Homo sapiens: one gene and its partners. The protein of the gene in region 1 interacts with the protein of each later gene in a pairwise test. Each region holds a gene or a part of one and is shown on either strand. Other genes may lie near its edges.

What was found.
Region 2: the proteins of EIF3E (region 1) and CRYAA interact in binary tests that used the Homo sapiens proteins (3 or more experiments, as listed by UniProt).
Region 3: the proteins of EIF3E (region 1) and LMO3 interact in binary tests that used the Homo sapiens proteins (3 or more experiments, as listed by UniProt).

Annotation. Positions count from the first base shown.
Region 1 is NC_000008.11:108,210,696-108,217,797, reverse strand, and holds part of EIF3E (eukaryotic translation initiation factor 3 subunit E), read left to right. Parts: intron 1-337; coding exon 338-464; intron 465-1,284; coding exon 1,285-1,386; intron 1,387-3,081; coding exon 3,082-3,191; intron 3,192-7,102. UniProt on the Homo sapiens protein: Component of the eukaryotic translation initiation factor 3 (eIF-3) complex, which is required for several steps in the initiation of protein synthesis.
Region 2 is NC_000021.9:43,164,552-43,172,007, forward strand, and holds the start of CRYAA (alpha-crystallin A chain), read left to right. Parts: upstream 1-4,456; 5' UTR 4,457-4,548; coding exon 4,549-4,737; intron 4,738-5,684; exon of another isoform or gene 5,685-5,780; coding exon of another isoform or gene 5,781-5,858; intron 5,859-5,965; coding exon 5,966-6,088; intron 6,089-6,485; exon of another isoform or gene 6,486-7,031; intron 7,032-7,456. UniProt on the Homo sapiens protein: Contributes to the transparency and refractive index of the lens. In its oxidized form (absence of intramolecular disulfide bond), acts as a chaperone, preventing aggregation of various proteins under a wide range of stress conditions.
Region 3 is NC_000012.12:16,554,163-16,561,162, reverse strand, and holds part of LMO3 (LIM domain only protein 3), read left to right. Parts: intron 1-624; coding exon 625-750; intron 751-7,000.

The DNA.
Region 1 (7,102 bases):
AAGTCATCGCTTAGTAGCCTTTTGGAACAGACTGACAGCATGTCAATGAACCTTGCAAAATCCTGTTACTCAAAAATAATAATAGGATAATTAGCCTCTTGATTGAGTCTTCCATCTCACCCCATATTAAAGAAATAGTGGCTAGCATTCTCCTCATTTGGATTCCTGAAACTGGATTCTGTTTTTAAATTTCCTTGGAGGAGATTTTCTTATAATACTCATTCTTAAGTGTTTGCAGTCTTAGGCTAGTGAAATAGTACAATCTAATGACCTGCTCGAGAGTTTTCTTTATCTCACCCTGGGTAAGTTATTAAATAACTTTTATATTTTTTCTTAGATATCTTAATGCAATTCAGACAATGTGTCCACACATTCTTCGCTATTTGACTACAGCAGTCATAACAAACAAGGATGTTCGAAAACGTCGGCAGGTTCTAAAAGATCTAGTTAAAGTTATTCAACAGGTAAAACTAAAATATATATTGATTTTTTTTTTTAAATACCTAAGCTTTAGGTCTAACCTCTTTTTCTAAGGTAAGACTTAGTTCTTAAGGTACAAACGTTTTTAAAAATAGGTGGAAGGAATACTTGAAGTTTAGAAAAGAGAAGACCCTCAAATGGGCTTTTGTTTTCCTTAAGTCCAAGATACACAAGTTGGATGTGGTAGGAATGATTATTACTGTCTGCTAGATGAACACTTAATATATACATTATGTGTATGTGTTTCTCTTATTGCAAAGAGTGAAGAAAATCTGGAACCTGGAGGTGGGGGTCATTACCTGTGTAATTCTACATGGGTGAACTTTATATACAATACCGTTTCAATAGACCCCAAGTTGGGCAAAAGGTTTCAGGCAGCCATGCTGATTGATATTTAGTGAGCTTGTCAGCAAAACCCGTAGATTAGAAATATAACTTAAATATTTATTTAAGAGTGTATTAAATACAAAGAAGTTATTGTCATTCAGTAGGGAATGAATACCCTTATGATTGGGGAAGTTTATTACTGTTTATTGACCAAGGGAGACTTTTGGTAGTAGAGGAATTTGAAAGCTTTCAGAATGCTTCTAGGATGAGACTTTAGAGAACTTGGTTTGAAAGACATAATAAGCTTAAGGTGTGGTCTGGAATCAGGATAGGAACAATTGTTTTGGGAAGATGCTAGGTAATTTGGCTAGAAATTAATGGTAAAGAAGGAGAAAACAAGAAGATTGGGATATTCTGGGGCAATCTGCTAAACAATGTTGAATCAGACTTACCTTGACCGTTGACTTATTTTTACAGGAGTCTTACACATATAAAGACCCAATTACAGAATTTGTTGAATGTTTATATGTTAACTTTGACTTTGATGGGGCTCAGAAAAAGCTGAGGGAATGTGAATCAGTAAGTGTGAATTTTTATTTATAAACTAATACTATTCTTAAATTTTTGGATATTGTAACGTTAATCTTGCAGTGTCTTCCTTAAAGTAATGAAGTAATTATAACGGAAATATGCTTATTAATCTTAAAAAGGCCTAAATGGCTCATGTTTATTAACCTTAAAATGGCTTAAATGGCTTGTGTTTATTAATCTTAAAATGGGAATGTGCTAGAGTGATGACTTTTTTAATGTTGTTGCCATGTGTTTATCCCTTTTGTGAGGGAGTTTGTTAAAACATTGGGGGTAATTTAAATTTACAGACATATCCATAATTTCATGTCTTAAATCTCGAATGAATATTTTTAATATTTCATATGTACAGGCAAGGTCACTTTGAATTGCAAATAACAACTGTGTTTTTAATTTTGGTTCATAGATGGGCTTATCTTTAGAATATTTCCCATGGTTGTATTTAACATTTGTGATAAACCAGGCAATTCATTGTAATTACGAATTTTATAACGGCGGTGTCTCTTATTGTTTAGTAGAAATTAAAGTACCTTTAGAGCAAATGGAAGACTTATAGTTGTTTTGAATAATTAGTTTACAAGTTTTAAGAAACTAAACTAAGAATTCTAACTGCTAAATGTAGTTGCATTTACCAGATTCACAAGTTACTGGTTATCAGTTTCACCCTTGGAACCAAAATTTTGGCACAAAATGGGCAATTTGTTGACAAATATCTTACTTCTCTAAGGAAAAAAATGATCATGCAAATATCCATTCCCTGATGATTTTCTTATTTTATTTTTTTTCAGACAGAGTCTCACTCTGTTGCCGAGGCTGGAGTGCAGTGGCATGATCCCGGCTCACTGCAAACTCCACCTCCCGGGTTCACACCATTCTCCTGCCTCAGCCTCCCAAGTAGCTGGGACCATAGGCGCCCACCACCACGCCCGGTTAATTTTTTGTATTTTTAGTAGAGACAGGGTTTCACCATGTTAGCCAGGATGGTCTCGATCTCCTGATCTTGTGATCTGCCCACCTCGGCCTCCCAAAGTGCTGGGATTACAGGCGTCAGCCACCGCACCTGGCCTCCCTGATGATTTTCAAACATTAGATGGAATAGAAAATTAGAATCCAATATGGTAATTGGTGTTTTTTTTTGTAGTCATATATTGCATTATTAAGGTAAATATTGGCGTATATTCATTATGCTAAGTGTCTAGGTTTTGATGTTAAAAGACCTAGAGGGTACTTGGTTGCTGTTCTTGAAATTAAAATATTCTCTCTTAATTACACCATCTGTGGAATAGTAGCCACCTTTTGCATTCTTTTCCTTCTAATTTCTAAGTCTACTTAATATTGTAGAAATACTCCGAGCTTGTAGTCCATTTATAATTATTTTAAATAGTTGGAAGAGATAACATTATCTGCAGAGCATTTATGTAGAATAATGGATAGTACCAAACTTTGTTGTCAGAAGGCTACTTTATTAAAGTTATCAGAAACATTGCAGTTTTTAGGTCTTTATCTTGTGGTATTCGTTTACTACTTATTTAAATCATTAAAGATTTGAACACAGTGTTCTAGAAAGTGCTGTGGTATAAAACTCATGATTGTAGAATGGAAAAATAAAGCAGATAAAGTATTTGATTCACGTTTCAGGCAATTGCTTGTCAGCATCATTAATTTTTGTTGTATTTGTACATATAGGTGCTTGTGAATGACTTCTTCTTGGTGGCTTGTCTTGAGGATTTCATTGAAAATGCCCGTCTCTTCATATTTGAGACTTTCTGTCGCATCCACCAGTGTATCAGCATTAAGTAAGAACACCGTGATTTGATTTGGATTTTCTACTTTAAAATTCCTGGAAATTTCCATTTATTGTGAATTTACACTTAATAGAATTCCAGTTAATTGGATTTTTATTTATTTTTGCTTTCAGAAGAACAATGAAACAATTTGATAAAATTATTTAAAAACCTAACTTTTGCTACAGGCTCAGATAGTTTTAGCTTGAGTGGCATAATTTTTCAAAATACTAAGTTGAAGGCAATATATGATTATCAGTTACCTTATTGAAGAGTAAATACTCTTGTACCTTTACGTAAGGAGAAAAGTGTAGTAAACATTTCTAAAATGGTTTTCAACAACAGTACAAAGGAGATACCCATTAAATTGGAAATTCTGTTGAAAGACCACTACATTTGGTAATCCTTTCCATTTAGTTTGTATGATTTAATTACATATTTGACTTCTCCTATAGTAAACTCCTATGGCATCTTAAAATGTTGAAAGATGGAAAAATTATAGTGAATTTTAGTTGTAATTTCCTGTTTTGTCAGAAAATATTGGGAAAAAATTGTGAAATGTACATAACCTATTAGAAATAAATTGTACACATTACAGTTTGAAAAATGACTAGTGCCCTTTGGGCACAGAGGAAGTCAAACAAATGTTTAAAAACCTACTGCTTTAGTGTTTGCTTCTGAGGAATTGTGCATAAAACAAATTCTTTTTCTTTAATGCCATTTGTTTTTGCTTATCCATACTTCGCTTGCCTAATTTTAGTGGGCCGTCCGTTGAAGTGGTTGTCCAGAGTTAGAAGGATAGTATAATCATGGGATTTTTCCTATGGGAATTGAATCCTTGCCTTCACAGTTTTATTAGCACTTTACTGTAGCTTGCAGACAGAATTTTTTAAACCTGATTCTCTTACAAATTACATGAAAATTCCTAATAATGTAATTGGTTATGAAATAAAGAGGTAGGTACATCATATGTGGGGCTCCGGTGGATAGTAGTAACTGAATTCTTGCATTGTTCTTTGTTTTTAAGGTTTGTAATTAGGGCTTGTGAAAGAGGGATGTTAGTATTTTGGTTTCCCTTGTAGAATTTTCTCCATTTCTCATTAGAATGTGGTCATTTGGGTGCTTTTTGGTCCAGAACTGACTTAGCTACTACCGCTGTTGTGGGCCTTTTGAAAGCTGACCCTTTTTTTTGCATCTTTAGCACCTAACATACTAACTTTGTAGCACCTAATATGCTTTGTACAGTATAGTGTGAGTATACAATATAAATATTTGTTAAGTAAATTTCTTCTGTTATTAGTGAACTTGGCATTTTTGTCCATGATAATGCTTGTCTGCTTTGGTGTTTGCTTCCGAGGTACTATCAATAAGATTTGTTGTAGCTCTTTTCCTTTAACTCTGCAGCCATGTATTCATTATTTTCTTTCTTGGGATTTGGTTTATTATCTTTTAAGAGGAACATAGATTAAGTATGTGTTCTCCTTACTGAAGGGAGATGTGCAGCTCAAAGAAGTTAATAGAGTGGGAATGTTTCTATATACCTTTATGTGACACTACCTAAGAATTTTTCAGACTTTTCTCCGTGTAGATTTTTATTACTTCCTTGATCTCTGTAGTTTTCTGCTAGACAAAAATCTACAAAGCATTTTCAGACTAAAGTCCTAGTGGCTTTCCAGAGTCTAAAAATATTTTTTTTTCTAGTAGTAGCATTTTCTTTCACTTCAGTTCTTCAATTTTTTTTTCAATGTTTTACTAAGATGATTAAGAGTACATAGATCAATAATGTATGTTTTTCTTTTTCTTTCTTTTTTTGGGGGGAGACACAGTCCTGCACTGTTGCCTAGGCTTGGGTATAGTGGTGCGATCTCTGCTCACTGCAACCTCTGCCTCTCGCGTTCAAGAGATTCTCGTGCCTCAGCCTCCCAAGTAGCTGAGATTACAGGCATGTGCCACCACGCCCAGCTAATTTTTGTGCTTTTAGTAGAGATGGGGTTTCACCATGTTGGCCAGGCTTGTCTTGAACTCCTGGCCTCAAGTGATCTCCCTGCCTTGTTCTCCCAAAGTGCTGGGATTACAGGCGTGAGCCACTTGCGCCCAGCGTTTTTTCAAGTACTATGGTAGAATTTTCAATCTGAAAGAAATCTTAGGGATCTTCTGATCCAACAACACAGTTACTTTTCAGGTGAAGGACTTCTCAGTAGAATTTTCTGTAGTGATAGAAATGTTTTATATCTGAAAATGTGTTTCTATGTGTTCAGTACAGTATACTTCATAGATGGCTCACATTTCAAGATCTTGAAGTATGGTTTCCAAATCTCTGTGTGACAGTGGGACTTATTTTCAAATGTAATATCATATATATGAATATATGTATTTATATATGTGTATAAGCAGATCAAAGCAGAGCCCATTCACCGTGCCTATCTTACAGTTCTGTTCAGCTTCTCTCCTGACTACTAAGACACCTCTTTGGAACACAGTTTTACAAAACACTGACTCAGAACAACTGCATTGTTTTGTAGCCAGGAAATTTAAAGCTCAAGGACATTAAGCTAGGTCTTGATAGAGCCTGTACTAAAGGTATCTGACATTCATTGTACTGTACCTCACTGTAAGTTCTTTTATATTGTGAACAATTTATATTTTTAGAAATGTCAGGTTTAGATTAATTTGTCATTTAGTTTATCAGTTGAGCCAGAGGATAAAGATGAAAACCCTAAGTCACTTTAACTCTGTGTTTCAGAATCTTTGTAGAGTTTGTTTTATAAACTCCCTATAGCCACCCTAAACCATTGAATCAGATTTATTGAGTAGGCTATGCTATGATTTGCAGCAGGGCTGCTGTGCTGTATCTTGAGGGTGGTTATTCCGAAGCACAGCCAGAATCCAAAACCACTGCATTAGGTAACCAGTTTTTTAGGCGTGTAATTACAGCCTGCTAAAGTAATGGAGTGAAAAATCAGTAATTTAATACCTTTATTATATAATGAATTAAGAAGATAAGCTTCTTCGTGTTTCTAAGGATGCTTTAGTGGGTTAGAAAGACAAAAGAAACTACCATCAGAGTGAACAGACAACCTACAGAATAGGAGAAAATTTTTAGCATCTACCCATCTGACAAAGGGCTAATATCCAGAATCTACAAAGTACCTAAACAAATTTACAAGAAAAAAACAACCCCATCAAAAAGTGGGCAAAGGATATGAACAGATACTTCTGAAAAGAAGACATTTATGCAGCCAACAGACATATGAAAAAATGCTCATCATCACTGGCCATCAGAGAAATGCAAATCAAAACCACAATGAGATACCATCTCACACCAGTTAGAATGGCGATCATTAAAAAGTCAGGAAACAACAGGTGCTGGAGAGGATGTGGAGAAATAGGAACACTTTTACACTGTTGGTGGGACTGTAAACTAGTTCAACCATTGTGGAAGACAGTGTGGTGATTCCTCAAGGATCTAGAACTAGAAATACCATTTGACCCAGCCATCCCATTACTGGACATATACCCAAAGGATAATAAATCATGCTGCTATAAAGACACGTGCACACATATGTTTATTGAGGCACTATTCACAATAGCAAAGACTTGGAACCGACCCAAATGTTCATCAATGATAGACTGGATTAAGAAAATGTGACACATATACACCATGGAATACTATGCAGCCATAAAAAATGATGAGTTCATGTCCTTTGTAGGGACATGGATGAAGCTAGAAACCATCATTCTGAGCAAACTATCACAAGGACAGAAAACCAAACACCGCATGTTCTCACTCATAGGTGGGAATTGAACAATGAGAACACTTGGACACAGGGTGGGGAACATCACACACCGGGGCCTGTCGTGGGGTGGGGGGAGTGGGGAGGGATAGCATTAGGAGATATACCTAATGTAAATGACGAGTTAAT
Region 2 (7,456 bases), on another chromosome or scaffold:
CTCACTGCAACCTCCACCTCCTGGGTTCAAGCGATTCTCCTGCCTCAGCCTCCCAAGTAGCTGGGATTACAGGCCTGCACCATCACGCCTGGCTAATTTTAGTATTTTTAATAGAAATGGGGTTTCACCATTTTGGCTAGGCTGATCTTGAACTCCTGGCCTCAGGTGATACACCCGCCTTGGCCTCCCAAAGTGCTGGGATTACAGGCGTGAGCCACCACGCCTGGCCTCAGTAAAGCATCTGTACACAGAAACACTCATAAGACAAATGATGCATTGCTCAGCTGATGAGAACATTGGGGCCAGAGGCTCGCAGGACCCTAAGCCTGTGTCTCCCCTGGGAGCCATGGTTCAGCAGTCCAGGCATCACTAATTCAGTGCTCACAGCAGCTTTATAGAACACCCCTACCTCTAGAAACAACTGCTATGAATGCAGCAATTGCTAGAACTTAGCCCAGCAAAAGGGGATTTTGTGCTGACATGATTTGCATGGACAGTGGCTGGGAATCAGGAAAAGAACACTGACTTGTCTTTGGTTTCATTCTGGTTTTTCATTTTCCGCAGACATCATATCCCTCAGTGCACTGGCTGTCACCTCCCCCTGCCCGCCACCTGCACACTGTGGCTTTGAGGCAGCATCTTCAACACAAATTTCAGGAGGAGCCCAGGTCCAGAGCAAAAGGGTCTTGTTTCCCCAGAATCCAGGCGAATGGCGCAGGGCTCTGGCAGGCGGATGCACTGACATCAGCGTGCATTTACTTGTTTGTTGCTTGTCTCTACCCAAGAGAATATCAGCTCCAGAAAAGCAGGGACTTTGTTTAACACAGCGTTAAGAGACAGGACTCGACCAGTGTGGATCAATTAAGTGAGGATGTTTGCACAGCAGGCTCCGGGCCAGCGAGTGGGGGTTAAGGCTCCTGAAAGTAGCCGGCTTTGAGATGTGGTGGGGGTGATCCTGAATTATCCAGGTGGGCTGAGAGCGTAATTGCCAGGTGGATGTGATGGGAGAGACCTCACCGCCCACCACTGCCTTTGAAGGTGGAGGAGGGGCCACGAGCCAAGAAAGGCAGGTGCCTTGAGATGCCAGAGAAGGCAAGAAACAGACTCCCCTGAGCCTCCAGCAGGAGCCAGCCCTGCCAGTGTCTTGCTTTAAGTTGAATGAGACACATTTCAGACTTGTGGCCTCCAGAACTGTGAGAGAAGACGTTTGTGTTGTTTTAAGCCACTAAGTCTGTGATTGGTACATCAGCCACAAGACACTAATACAACACCTAAACTCGGGGTTTGAAAAGGCCCCTAGGGCCCTAGAGCCCTCCCTGCCCCCGGTCCAGGCCTTCCTGCTTCTGTTGTGCAGACTCAGGCGCTGGCTCACTCAGAAGCCCCCTGCAGGCCCGGCCAATCCTGTGGCAGAGCCTCGACGTCCCACGGCGGCCTCTGAGCCGCCAGGCCCTACAGCGTGTGGTGAGGGGCGCAAGAGGTGTGAGTGCCTGGACCTTGCTCTGCCCCGTGTCTGAGGACCTTGCCCTGCCCCGTGTCTGAGGACCTTGCCCCATCCTCGGCACCCAGAGCTGTGCAGTCCATAGGACCAGGCTGGTGCCCAGCCCCAGGTTGGTGCCTCAGCTGCCTCCTCAGCCTGCAGTCTCCACTGTTTGACTGACCATGTGCAGGGCCAGCTGTGAAGGACAGCACAGCTCCTCCCTCCCTGCCAAGTGTCAGGGGCACTAAAAACACTGCCATCAATGTTCTGATGTTTAAATCATGTTTTGATGCAATGTTTAAACAAATCAAAATGGGTCGGGCGCAGTGGCTCACGCCTGTAATCCCATCACTCTGGGAGGCCGAAGCGAGTGGATCACCAGAGATCAGGAGTTCGAGACCAGCCTGGCCAACACGGCGAAACCTCATCTCTACTAAAAATATAAAAATTAGCTGGGTGTAGTGGTGTGTGCCTGTAATCTCAGCTACTTGGGAGGCTGAGGCAGGAGAATCGTTTGAACCCGGGAGGCAGAGGTTGCAGTGAGCTGAGATTGTGCCACTGCACTCCAGCCTGGGCGACAGAGCGAGACTCCATCTCAAAAATAAATAAATAAAATAAATAAGTAAATCAAAATGAATGCAAAAAATTTGTGGTGGACAAACTGTCAACATTTTACATAAAGCCAGGATGAGGACGACGGCCTTCTCCTTTTGCTTCAAGCTCCAGCATGGCTCTGCCCAGCACTGACCGTGCTCCTGGCCTGGCTCGACCCTCCCCAGGGCCAAGCTCCATGCTGGTTTCCATCCCAAAGGACTCTTCTTCCCCCTCCCTGTGCCCCGGGAATAGGCAGCCAGCACAGTGGGGCCGCCCGCTGCCTCACCCAGACCCTGCCACTGCTTGGATGTTGACCCCCAGACTGGAAAGGTGGCTTTAAACCCCCTTCCCTTCTTCCAAGCCAAGTGACCTGGGCGTGCGGCTTAACCTTCTAAGCTCCCATTTCCTGGTCTATGAAGCGGGAATGATGCTGGGACCTGCTTCACAGGGTGGCTCTGAGGACCCACAGGCAGAGAGGTCTGGTGTAGGCTTTCGGGGGAAGCACCCATCACTCTCCCAGCGTTTCCTATCTGCACCTTAATTTGGCACCCCAGGGAATCGCTCCTCTGGAATTGTAACCTTGCAGGGCAAAAGCTATCATTTCAAGATTTTTTGGGATCCTGTGTCCCCGGACAGTGCTGTAAATGTAGGAGGAAGGGTGCTGCTCATGGGTGCTGCTCATGATGGAGGTGCCCCGTGGAGCACGCCTCGGAGCCCCCCCTTTCATCCCTGATCCCATCTGGGATGTGTCAGGTCTGATCCGCATACACTGGGGCATCTGACATTTCATGGCCTTCTGAGCCCATGGGCTGGAGATGAATTTGCAAAGCCCGGGAGTGTCCTGGGTGTGTGTTCACTCCACACGCACGAATCTGTTAGAGGCTGAGTAGGAACTAGGAGGCCAAAGAGAACCAGGCAACTTCCCACAGCCTGGACCGTACACTAGAAAAGCTAGCCTGGGAGAGGGGGCATGGCCTCTTCCCAGGCTGGCAGGGGGGATGTGGGGGAGGACCATGCTCCCCAGGGCCAGTTTACCAAAATATCAAAATACCAAAATATCAAAAGACTTAAAACTAGGAGTGAGCCAGGTGCAGTGGCTCACGCCTGTAATCCTACACTTTGAGAGGCCAAGGCAGGTGGGTCACCTGAGGTCAAGAGTTTGAGACCAGCCTGGCCAACACGGTGAAACCCTGTCTCTACTAAAAATACAAAAATAATAATAATAATAATAATAATAATAATTAGCCAGGTGTGGTGGCAGGCACCTGCAGTCTCAGCTACTCAGGAGGCTGAGGTGGGAGAATTGTTTGAACCTGGGAGGCAGAGGTTGCAGTGAGCTGAGATCGCGCCACTATATGATCTGGGCGCCACTCTGGGTGACACAGCAAGACTCCATCTCAAAAACAAACAAACAAAACCGGGAGTGCCTGGACACTTAGTGAGAACTGGACAGGGGCCATGGGTCGAGGAGCAAAATAATCACCAGGACTTGTGGATAACAGGATCATGTGGGTGGTGGGTCCGCATGGGTGACAGGGACGTGGGGACATGTCGCCACCCTGACAGGAGCAGCCCAACTCAACAGCCACGGCAGGTCATGCCACGGAGGCTCGAGGCGTTACGTGGGGATGTTACATCAAGGCATTACATCATTACGAGATGTAACGCTCGAGGCGTTACATCGAGGGGACGATGGCCATGGGGCTGGGCGTCCAGGGTGGGCCGCAGAGGGAAGCTCACCACGTGGTGCTCTCATCTGCCCACAGCCCAGCCCGTCTTCCTGTTGGAGGCATGTGACCCCTGGAGGACAAGCATGAAACGCCATAGGGCTCCCCCAGGTGCTGGAATTATGGCACCTTGCAGCTTCTTCTCCACGAGTTTTAACAAGCATGCGTACTTTTGTAAGTGGTGAGTGTAACGGAGGTTCACAGATGCACTCCGCTTTGGAAACCAGTGCACTCTTGCCCAGGCCCGGTGAGACTCTGAGGACGATGTGTCTAACCTCTGTGTCTAACGGGGGTGTGTGCTCTCCCTCCTCTGGCGACCATGAGGACCACCCCGGCAGGACAAGGTGTGCAGAGAACTAGCATGGTCCCTGGCACGTAGCCCCTGCCCAGTGACTGGCAGATGAGAAGCTCCATTGTCGCCCCAGGCGAGTATGGGGCACAGGCGCCTCCTTGGGTTGTCTGCCCTCCCGGGAGCCCCAGGGTGCCCAGGCGGGCCTCAGCTGAGTCCAGGCCTCGGGGACAGTCCGTGCAGCCCCTCCTGGGGCTGGGGGCGGGCACTTGTCCCAGCCACGTTTCTGCTGACTGAGCAGCCTTCTTCATGAGCTCACGCCTTTCCAGAGAAATCCCTTAATGCCTCCATTCTGCTGGTGGCATATATAGGGAGGGCTCGGCCTTGGCTCCACACTGCGCTGCCCAGAGGCCCCGCTGACTCCTGCCAGCCTCCAGGTCCCCGTGGTACCAAAGCTGAACATGGACGTGACCATCCAGCACCCCTGGTTCAAGCGCACCCTGGGGCCCTTCTACCCCAGCCGGCTGTTCGACCAGTTTTTCGGCGAGGGCCTTTTTGAGTATGACCTGCTGCCCTTCCTGTCGTCCACCATCAGCCCCTACTACCGCCAGTCCCTCTTCCGCACCGTGCTGGACTCCGGCATCTCTGAGGTAAGACGTGGCCCGTGGTGCTGGCCTCTCCTCGCTGCTCAGAGGGTGGTGGCCTCGGTGGGTGGAGAGCGATGGACTCTGGTCTTGCTCCGTCAGGCAGGTGGCCTCGTCCCACTTCATCCCCTTGCAGAGGCTGGGCGAGAGCCTGTGTCCCCACTGCAGCCACGTGGCAGAGCTTCCCCTGGCACTGGGGAGAGGGTGGACAAGGGAGCAGCCTGAATCCACCTTTGCTTTCCTCCATCAGCTCATGACCCATGTGTGCTTTGTAAGGCACCAGCCACATACTGGAAACCCCAAGAGCAGCCCATCCAGGCATGCGTGGTGGCGAATGCCAGCTCCCGGGTTCCTCTGGTCTCCTGAGTCCCGGAGACCTGGGAGCAGGTGGGGGTCATAGTCCTGAAAGCCAGAGAGCAGGGCGTTCCTAGCACCTCCTCCAATGAGCTCGGCCTGCCCACGGCTAGCAAAGCTCTTGGCAAGTTTACTTAGGTGCCCTGCCAAGGCTAAAAGGACAGGCAATGGACGCCCCCCCCCCCACCCAACCACAGGCCTCCTCTCTGAGCCACGGGTGAGCGGTGCAGGTTCTGCTGTTCTGGAGGGCCTGAGTCCCACCCAGCACCTCATAAACAGGGTCCTCCCCAGGGCTGCTGCAGTAGGCATCAACGCCAGGGTGCAAAATGCCTCAGGGAGCCAAGGCTGAGCCAGGGGAGTGAGAAGGAGCATGTGGAAGTGCGTTTTGGAGAGGCAGCTGCGCAGGCTGTCAGCAGGCTCCGGCCGCTTCTATAGACAGCATGACACCAAGGGCAGTGACCTCATTCCACAGGCTGAGTCCAGCCAGCCAGCCAAGCATCACCAGCCAGACGATTGACCCTAACGGACCAACCAACCCGTAACGACCCCTCCTACCATAACCAGTAGCCAGCCAGCCCATAACCAGCCAACTTATCTATAACCAGCCACCTGACCATAGCCAAACAACCAGCCGGCCCACCAGTAGCATTCAGCCCCTCAGCTGGCCCTGAGGGTTTGGAGACAGGTCGAGGGTCATGCCTGTCTGTCCAGGAGACAGTCACAGGCCCCCGAAAGCTCTGCCCCACTTGGTGTGTGGGAGAAGAGGCCGGCAGGTGACCGAAGCATCTCTGTTCTGATAACCGGGACCCGCCCTGTCTCTGCCAACCCCAGCAGGGACGGCACCCTCTGGGCAGCTCCACATGGCACGTTTGGATTTCAGGTTCGATCCGACCGGGACAAGTTCGTCATCTTCCTCGATGTGAAGCACTTCTCCCCGGAGGACCTCACCGTGAAGGTGCAGGACGACTTTGTGGAGATCCACGGAAAGCACAACGAGCGCCAGGTGAGCCCAGGCACTGAGAGGTGGGAGAGGGGGGCGAGTTGGGCGCGAGGACAAGGGGGTCACGGCGGGCACGACCGGGCCTGCACACCTGCACCATGCCTTCAACCCTGGGAGAGGGACGCTCTCCAGGGGACCCCGAATCAGGCCTGGCTTTTCCCCAAGGGAGGGGCCGTGCCCACCTGAGCACAGCCAGCCCCTCCCGGTGACAGAGGTCACCATTCCCGAGCTAATGTGGCTCAGGGATCCAGGTTAGGGTCCCTTCCCGGGCTGCACCCAGCCGTCGCCAGCTCCATCCCTGTCACCTGGATGCCAGGGTGGTCTTAGAAAGAACCCCAGGAAGTGGGAGTGCCCCGGGTGGCCGCCTCCTAGCCAGTGTACATCTTCACATGAACCCTACCTGAGGAAGCCAGTCCCCGACGGCATAGCTGCATCCGCTTGGAATGCTTTACAGGCATTGACACCTTCGCCTCACAGCAGCACTTTGGAACCAGTGTCCTCATTATTCCAGGGCACGGCTGGGGAACAAGGGGGTCCTCAGCCTGCTGGGTCCCACAGCTAGTACCGGGCAGGTGGACGGGAGCTTCTCCCCACAGTCACCCTGATGCCCCGCTCTTGCTCGGCTGGAGGCCTCGGATCTCCGTGGTGTTGAGGGAGCCGGGGCACTGGAGCCCTGGTGACCTGCATCTCCTGGCGGAGCCGGGAAGAGCTCATGGACTGTCACAGATGGACAGTGCCCCGCGGGGGCTGGAGAGCAGAGTGGGGCTGGAAGGTGGAACTCTTAGCCAAAGTCTTGGTTTCTTTTGGCCAGGGTCCTCTTTCAATGGCTGGAGAAGGTGGTGCTGGGGGGTGAACGCTGACCTCCTCATGTGCTGCCCCTCCCTCGCCTGGGCCCGGTAAAGCCCCCACGTAGCCCCAGCCAGCCTGGAACATGCTTCCTGAGCTCCCAGCTCTTGGTCTTTGCACCCAGTGGAGGAGGAGGTCAGCCCAGGGAGCTGAGTCTGCGGTTTAGGGCGTCCAGGGGACGTGGAAGCATGTGGGTCGTCTGGCCACATTAGGTAGGGCTGCAGAGACCTGGGCTAGAGCAGTCCTGCGGGGTCTGGAAGGGGAAGACTGGCTGAGGTGCGGGGCCTGGTCTGGAATGATCCTGCGATTTTGGAGTGAAGCCATGGAGCGGGAAGAGACAACCCCCCGCGGGGAATAGCCCGGCAAGTGGCCACGAGGCCAGGCTGAGGTCCAGAGAAGCAGGGGCATGAATCCATAAATCCCAGGGGGCCTGGCCATGGGATGTGCTGGCTGCACCCGGCCCCTGTGAGAGCCCCCGCAGGCTGGCCCCCTTCTGCAGTCAGTGGGGCTGGGGCAGCTTCTCTG
Region 3 (7,000 bases), on another chromosome or scaffold:
GACAGTATATTATCCTTCAATTTCTGGTCTAGCTATATATAGTTTACAGCCTCATTTACTTTAATGTGCTACTTGAATAACATAATCATAGCTATAACTATGGTATAGAGCCATAAGGTGCATGCATGCGCCTCTATGTTTTTTGACTATTTAAATGGCTTCTTCATAAATGTATTTTTAATAATAATGGCAAACCTTTTAGTAACTAAATGTCAAAAAGTAGTGAATCATTCATTAGTTGGTTCCTTTCCCAACTAAAATGTTTAATATATAACATTAAGAGCAAAGTTATATTGCTTTTATATTTTCTATATACTCTAACCCAGAGATTTTTGCTATGAATTCACCCCCATTGACTTCTGTTTATGTGCAGTTACGTAAGCTTCCTAATGTATTTGTCTTTTCCTTTTCTTCTCAAACAAGATGTGATTTTCATCAAGGAAGGTCAACGGAGAATATATTGCAGAAGAATATTTATGCATACACCTAGGATAAAATCCACTTGTGTACATCATAAAGCATTGTGTATTGTAGCTTTACAGAGTATATTAACATCATCTCTCTTCACGATCTCAGATTTCTCTGTAAGAGTTTGTAAAAAAAAAAAAATGTTTCTTATTCTAGGCTCTTTGGTGTAACGGGAAACTGCGCTGCCTGTAGTAAGCTCATCCCTGCCTTTGAGATGGTGATGCGTGCCAAGGACAATGTTTACCACCTGGACTGCTTTGCATGTCAGCTTTGTAATCAGAGGTAAGCAGGTCTCTTTTTGGTCTCTAAGAAATGGTTAACCTCTCTGTGCTGGCTATTTATTTAATAGGTGGAAATTATATTCATACATTTAAAGCAATCAATCTCAGCGTTTTTCTGTTCTGTAAACTTTAATCCCATGCCAGAGACAAGCTACTAAGGAGAAGAAAGGTCTTAAGACTTACTTCTACCTGAAAGAAAAGCATCATATAAGAGCAAGTAACAGAAAATGGAAACACTACCGTAAACTCTGACTTCTTTTACTCATTCCTTCTTTTATTATTTTCCTGTCTTTTTAAAAGTAGTTTTAAATATCTACTTTTTTATACTACTTATGTGAGTAAATAAATTGGCAATGAAGCAAATATACAGGAATTTGTTGCAGGTATTTTATATTCTTATTATTTTTTATATTTTAAATTCCTTATCCCTCATGTTTTTGTTTTTGCTTTTTTAAATACAAGGTCTGGTTCTGTCACCCAGCCTAGAGCGCAGTGGCACTAACATGGCTCATGCAGCCTCAACTTCTGTGCTCAAGCAATCCTCCTGCCTCAGCCTCCCGAGTAGCTGGGAGTACAGGTGTGCACTCCCATGCCTGGCTAATTTTTTTTTTTTTTCATTTTTTATAGAGATGATGGAGTTTCACTATGTTACCCAGGCTGGTCTCAAACTCCTGGCCTCAAGCAATCCTCCCACCTCCACCTCCCAAAGTGCAGGGATTATAGGCATGAGCCACCACCCCCACCCAATCTAGCTGTTTACCTTAAATTTTAACCCTGTCCTATATGTACTTTTGCAGTTACTTCAAATATCTTTGAGAATCAGTCCAGATATAGCTAATAATTAAACAATTATTATCATTGGAGAGGAGCATTTGAAAAAGTGTTGAACAGGGAACCTGGAAACCTAAATTCTAATATGGGCTCTGCCACTAATAAGCTGTGCGATCTTAAACCAAACAAACACCTTCCCTCTCTGGACCTCAGGTTTTTCATTTGTAACATATGAAGCTGGATTAGTTCATCTCAGAGAATTCTTTCAGCTGAAAAGTATTATCACTTAATTCCATTTTTTCTTATTGAAAGTTATATTTTTTATTTCTGTGAAAACTATATACTACTGGCACCTGTTTTATATGATAAATGGAGAGGATTTTAGAACATTAAAATGTACGTATTAAAAATACAACATTTCAAAAATTAGAACACTTGATAGATTTTAATGAAAATGAATTCACTGACTTTCTGTGAGAACACCTGGCAGAGTATATAATCAATAAATATTAGTTGCATCAAGTTCTCAGTTATTGTAATTTACTCTGAAAGGTACTATTTGATGCAGAATCTTCTTATGAGACCCTGTAGAATAGTAGAAAGAATGTGACATTTCTAGTGAGAACGGGATTCAAATTTCAGCACCACCATATATTAGCTGATATATTAGCTGTGTGATCTTGAGTATGTTACTTAATCTCTCTGAATTTGATTCCCACACCCATAAAATAGAAACACTAACACCTCTCTTGCAGAGTTTGAAACTTAAATGAAATAATTAATTTATATTAAATGTCAGGAACACAACAGGTTCTCAAAAGTTAGTTATCTTTATAATTTACCAAATAATATTCCATTAACTTGACTTTCCCACAAGGCATGTATCACAATAGTGTTTCTTGCTAAATGTAGATATTCAGATTGTTGCCTAATGTACCTTATAATGTAATAGTTACCCAGACAGTCATGTAAGATGTTATCTTACAATGTCTTGACTCTTCCCAGCAAGTACTGAGAATCAAAGTAAGTTCATTCAGTCTAGGGTAACATTTAGACGAAAATAAATTGGCAAATGCACATGTTTTTGGTAGGGATAAGGATATACAAACACAAACATTCCCACATCCATACAGACACCTTTATGTGCATGTATATATGTATTTTATACATTTTAAAGGTGTCTTAGTAGTAAATTTAGAATACTTTTGTTGACTTGTCATGTTGATCAACTAATAGCAGCCAGTAACCATGCAGTTCCCATTATGGAATCATAAAGTCATTGCTTTTCTACTTATAAAAGATTACATATTCATAGTAGGAAATTTAGAAAATAGAAAATGATAAAAACAAGACATTGTCCCATGTCTCATTCTTCTAAAAGAAAACATTTTAATATTTTGATATATAGCCAGCCATACATGTTCCTATGTCTATAGGACAAATGACATTGTATAAATATTACACTCACATTTAAGCAAATTAAAGTTACAAGGGAGAATCCTAATGTTTGATATTTGGACTTTTTCACTCAATTTATATTTTGTGCCTTTTTTACCTGCCATTAAAAATTCTTTTAAGATATTTTAAGCTTTTCTGAGTTCAGCTTTATGGACAGAGCTTCACATATGTCTTCTATCATCAGATATATAAGTTGTATCTTCAAAAGTTTTTGTGCTGTAAATATTATCAGTATTATCAATATAAAAATGGACCTTATGAGACCCTGTAGAATAGTAGAAAGAATGTGACATTTATAGTGAGAAGAGATTCAGATTTCAGCACCACCATATAGTAGCTGATATATTAACTGTGTGATCTTGAGTATGTTACTTAATCTCTCTGAATTTGATTCCCACACCTACAAAATAGAAACACTAATACCTCTCTTGCAGAGTCTGAAACTTCAATAAAATAATTTATGTTAAATGTCAGGAACACAACTGGTTCTCAAAAGTTAGTTATTTTTATAATTTACCAAATAATAGTCCACTAACTTGACTTTCCCACAAGACATATATCACAATAGAGTTTCTTGCTAAATGTAGATATTCAGATTGTATAAAAACAAATGCTCATATCTCTATCTGGTTAAATTCACAGAGCATGATTACTTAAACAAGGTATATAACAGTTTGAAGGCATATGCTGTACATTGCTTAATGATCTCCAGGAAAGTTATACCAATTATTCTCCTAGCAGAAATCTACAAAACTACGCATTCCCTCACATTCATTCTAAAACACTAGGAATTACGTTTAAAAAAAAAAAAAAAAAATCCTTGCCACCTTAAGGGATGAAAGATAGTATTTCATTATAATTTCTAACTGGCATTTATTTGATCCCTGGTGGTCCTTTGGTATTCCTTCTTTTAGAGAAGTAGGCAGTTTATGTCCTTTGTCCATTTTCTTCTATTAAGTAGGGTTACCTATTTTATCCATGTTCTACATAGAAAATAAAAACATTCAAGTGCTAAACCCAGCCTAAATTCTATTATGATGCAAAGTAATTGTAGGTTGTTAATGCTATTTACAAATCATATATCTATTTTATTTCACCATTGAAATAAAAAGTTGCATTCACAATTAAGTCTGTCTCCTCAGGAGAACTCAGTCAAGTAAGACAAACACTCCTAAATTTTGACTCTAAAACTGTTCACATTCTTATTGCTGCGAAATACTATTCTAGTATCATTATTAAAGTACCTAATATATTTCTGTGTTCGCTTCATTTATTACATGCCATAATGGGACTGCATATCTTTAGTGCCGGTTATGCACAATTAGCACTTAGTTATTGTCTTGTCACTTCAGCCCCTACAAGACAAACTAATGCGGGAAGTCAGCTAATCTTCATCAGTCAAGCAAAGCAGACAAATTTTGTTACCCAGGATACAGAAGGTTTTCATATAGGAGATTCTCCTTTTACTCTGAAGTTTGCTTCAGTCTCCTCCAGGAAACCCATATCCCACTTCCAGTAGCCAAATCATTGTCGCAATATTGCACTTTTCAAGTGAAACACAAGGCAAATAGGTAATTCATAGGCATTTTCTCTTAAGCAAACTTTATTGACGTCTAAAGTTGTGGAATTACGCGTTTGTGAATTGTATTCAGCAGTCATTTCATCTTTACCTTTAAATCAAAGTATCATTAAGATCCAAAGCATTTCTGAATGTTTTAAAAAGTAGCAGTAATAATAACCTTTCAGGATTGATTGTCCCTTATATATAGATCTCCTCTGCCCCTTTTAGAGGCGTATAGCTAAAACGTGAATCCTGCATTAAAATTCGGCTAGTTTCTCTATTTTAAAAGGTACCGCAGGAGGGTTATTTAAGCTTATTTTATGATATCTTGAATCTCATTCAGAATTGGAAGATTCTATATAACAGGTTAATTTCTTAAAGGTGAATAAGCCCCTTCTCCTTAGAAAACACAATAAAACTAAATGATAGTTTTGTAAGAAAAGGAAAAATAAAAAGCTTGTGATGAAATTTTCCCAAATATGTAAAATTATGTAACAATTAATTAATTTTCTTTTTTTTAAGAATAAAGCACTGTGCTAGGCTCTGTGGAAGCTGAGGTGGATAAAATCTGGTTTATTTCTTAGAGGTGTCCGGAGCTACGGGAGAGACAGGACATCAAAGACTCACAGAAGAGTGTAATCGATGCTAAATAGAGCTATACTGAGGGAAGAGAGAGCCATCCTTCTTGAAGTGTTAGGGAAGCATCAAAGGCCTGATATGCTGGGTCTTGAAAAAAGAACTCCCTAGAACTGGTTGACTTACAGGAAGTGTGTCTGCTCGGGGTTGGGGAAGATGAGGGAGCCAGGGAGCAGTGAGGAAAGGAATTTTCAGGCAAATTGAGCAACGTGCAAAGGCATGCAGATGTGAAAGCATTTGACGTGTTTAGGAAATGAAAAGCGGCTCAGTATGTTCAGAGATTAGAGAAGCGGTTTGGTAGGCACATGGAGGAGTAGAAAGAGAGCAAGCACCTAGAGGAAATGAAATTGTAAACTTAGTCTTTGAAAAGCCATTAAATAAAAGTCAAAATGAATACAAATTTAAATTAGTCATCTAAAATACATTTGTTATTTAAAGCTGTTGGTTTCTGGAATAAATCTACCTTAACCAATTTTTATTGACCACACACCTTAAGTGGTAGTACAGTTTATGATGGTTCTGCAAAGGGTTCAAAAGAAATATAACTCGTGGTCATTTACCGCAGAACTGCTGACTATAATGGCAAACCAGTTACACATTCATGAGAAATTTTGAAACACCAAAATAAACAATACACCAATAAATAAGTGCTTTGGGAAACATCAGAATAAGCAAATTTACATGGTCAGAAGATGTTGATGGAGGCAATGGGAACTCAAGGATTGTTACAATTTAAGTAGACAGAAAAAGGGGAGAAATATTTCTTGCTAGGGAACAACTTAAGTAAAGGTGAAAAGATTATCATTACCAAATAATAATGATAGCAAATTCTGATAAAGTATTAGTCAAACACCAAACACCGTTCTGAGTGTTTTACATGTACTCATTCGTTTAATACTCAAAATATCCCATAAATAGGTAGTTATTAGCTTCATTTGACAGATGAGGAAAGTAAAGTATAGGAAATGTAAGTAACTTGCCCAAGATTACAGTTAGAAGAAAGTGGTAGACTCAAGATTTAAACCTGGCCGGGCGCGGTGGCTAATGCCGGTAATCCCAGCACTTTGGGAGGCCGAGGCGGGCGGGCGGATCACGAGGTTGGGAGATCGAGACCATCCTGGCTAACACGGTGAAACCCCGTCTCTACTAAAAAATACAAAAAAATGAGCCGGTCGAGGTGGCGGGCGCCTGTAGTCAGAGCTACTGGGGAGGCTGAGGCAGGAGAATGGCGGGAACCCGGGAGGCGGAGCGAATCTGGTCTCCCTCTCCGGAGTCAGGCCCATTTCAAGAGAGGTATTTTATTTTCTGACTAAGAGCATATAAATGTGAATAGATATAGTGGACTTAAAGTAAGGTAAACTTTGAATAATGTATAGCAAGATTTGGGGTGTGGGTAGTGTCATTTGATACACTAAGGGTTGTTAGCAGTGAGATGTATAATGACAACCGGACTGTCAGTGGGAAAGACAGTAAATTTGTTCACAGGTGTATAGTGGAGGAATGAGTACACAACCCGGACTTCTTATTGAAAACAGTATAGTATAGAAATCTCTAACTTACAGTTAACTGAAGATGTGGAATAGGAAAGTATAGACACTAGAAATATGGATTGGAGCTCCCTAGCTAAGTGTTGTAAGATAGAAATTAATCATAATTGTCAGTCACTAACATTAGGGAAAGAAGATGGCTAGGCTAACATTTTTATTTCTTAAAAGGGATGTTACCAGTGGAGGCTTCTTAGCATAGGCTTTTGATAACCTGCTTAAAACTAAGCACTATATTTTATAAGGATGATTTACTATTTACACTTGTTTCATATACTTCT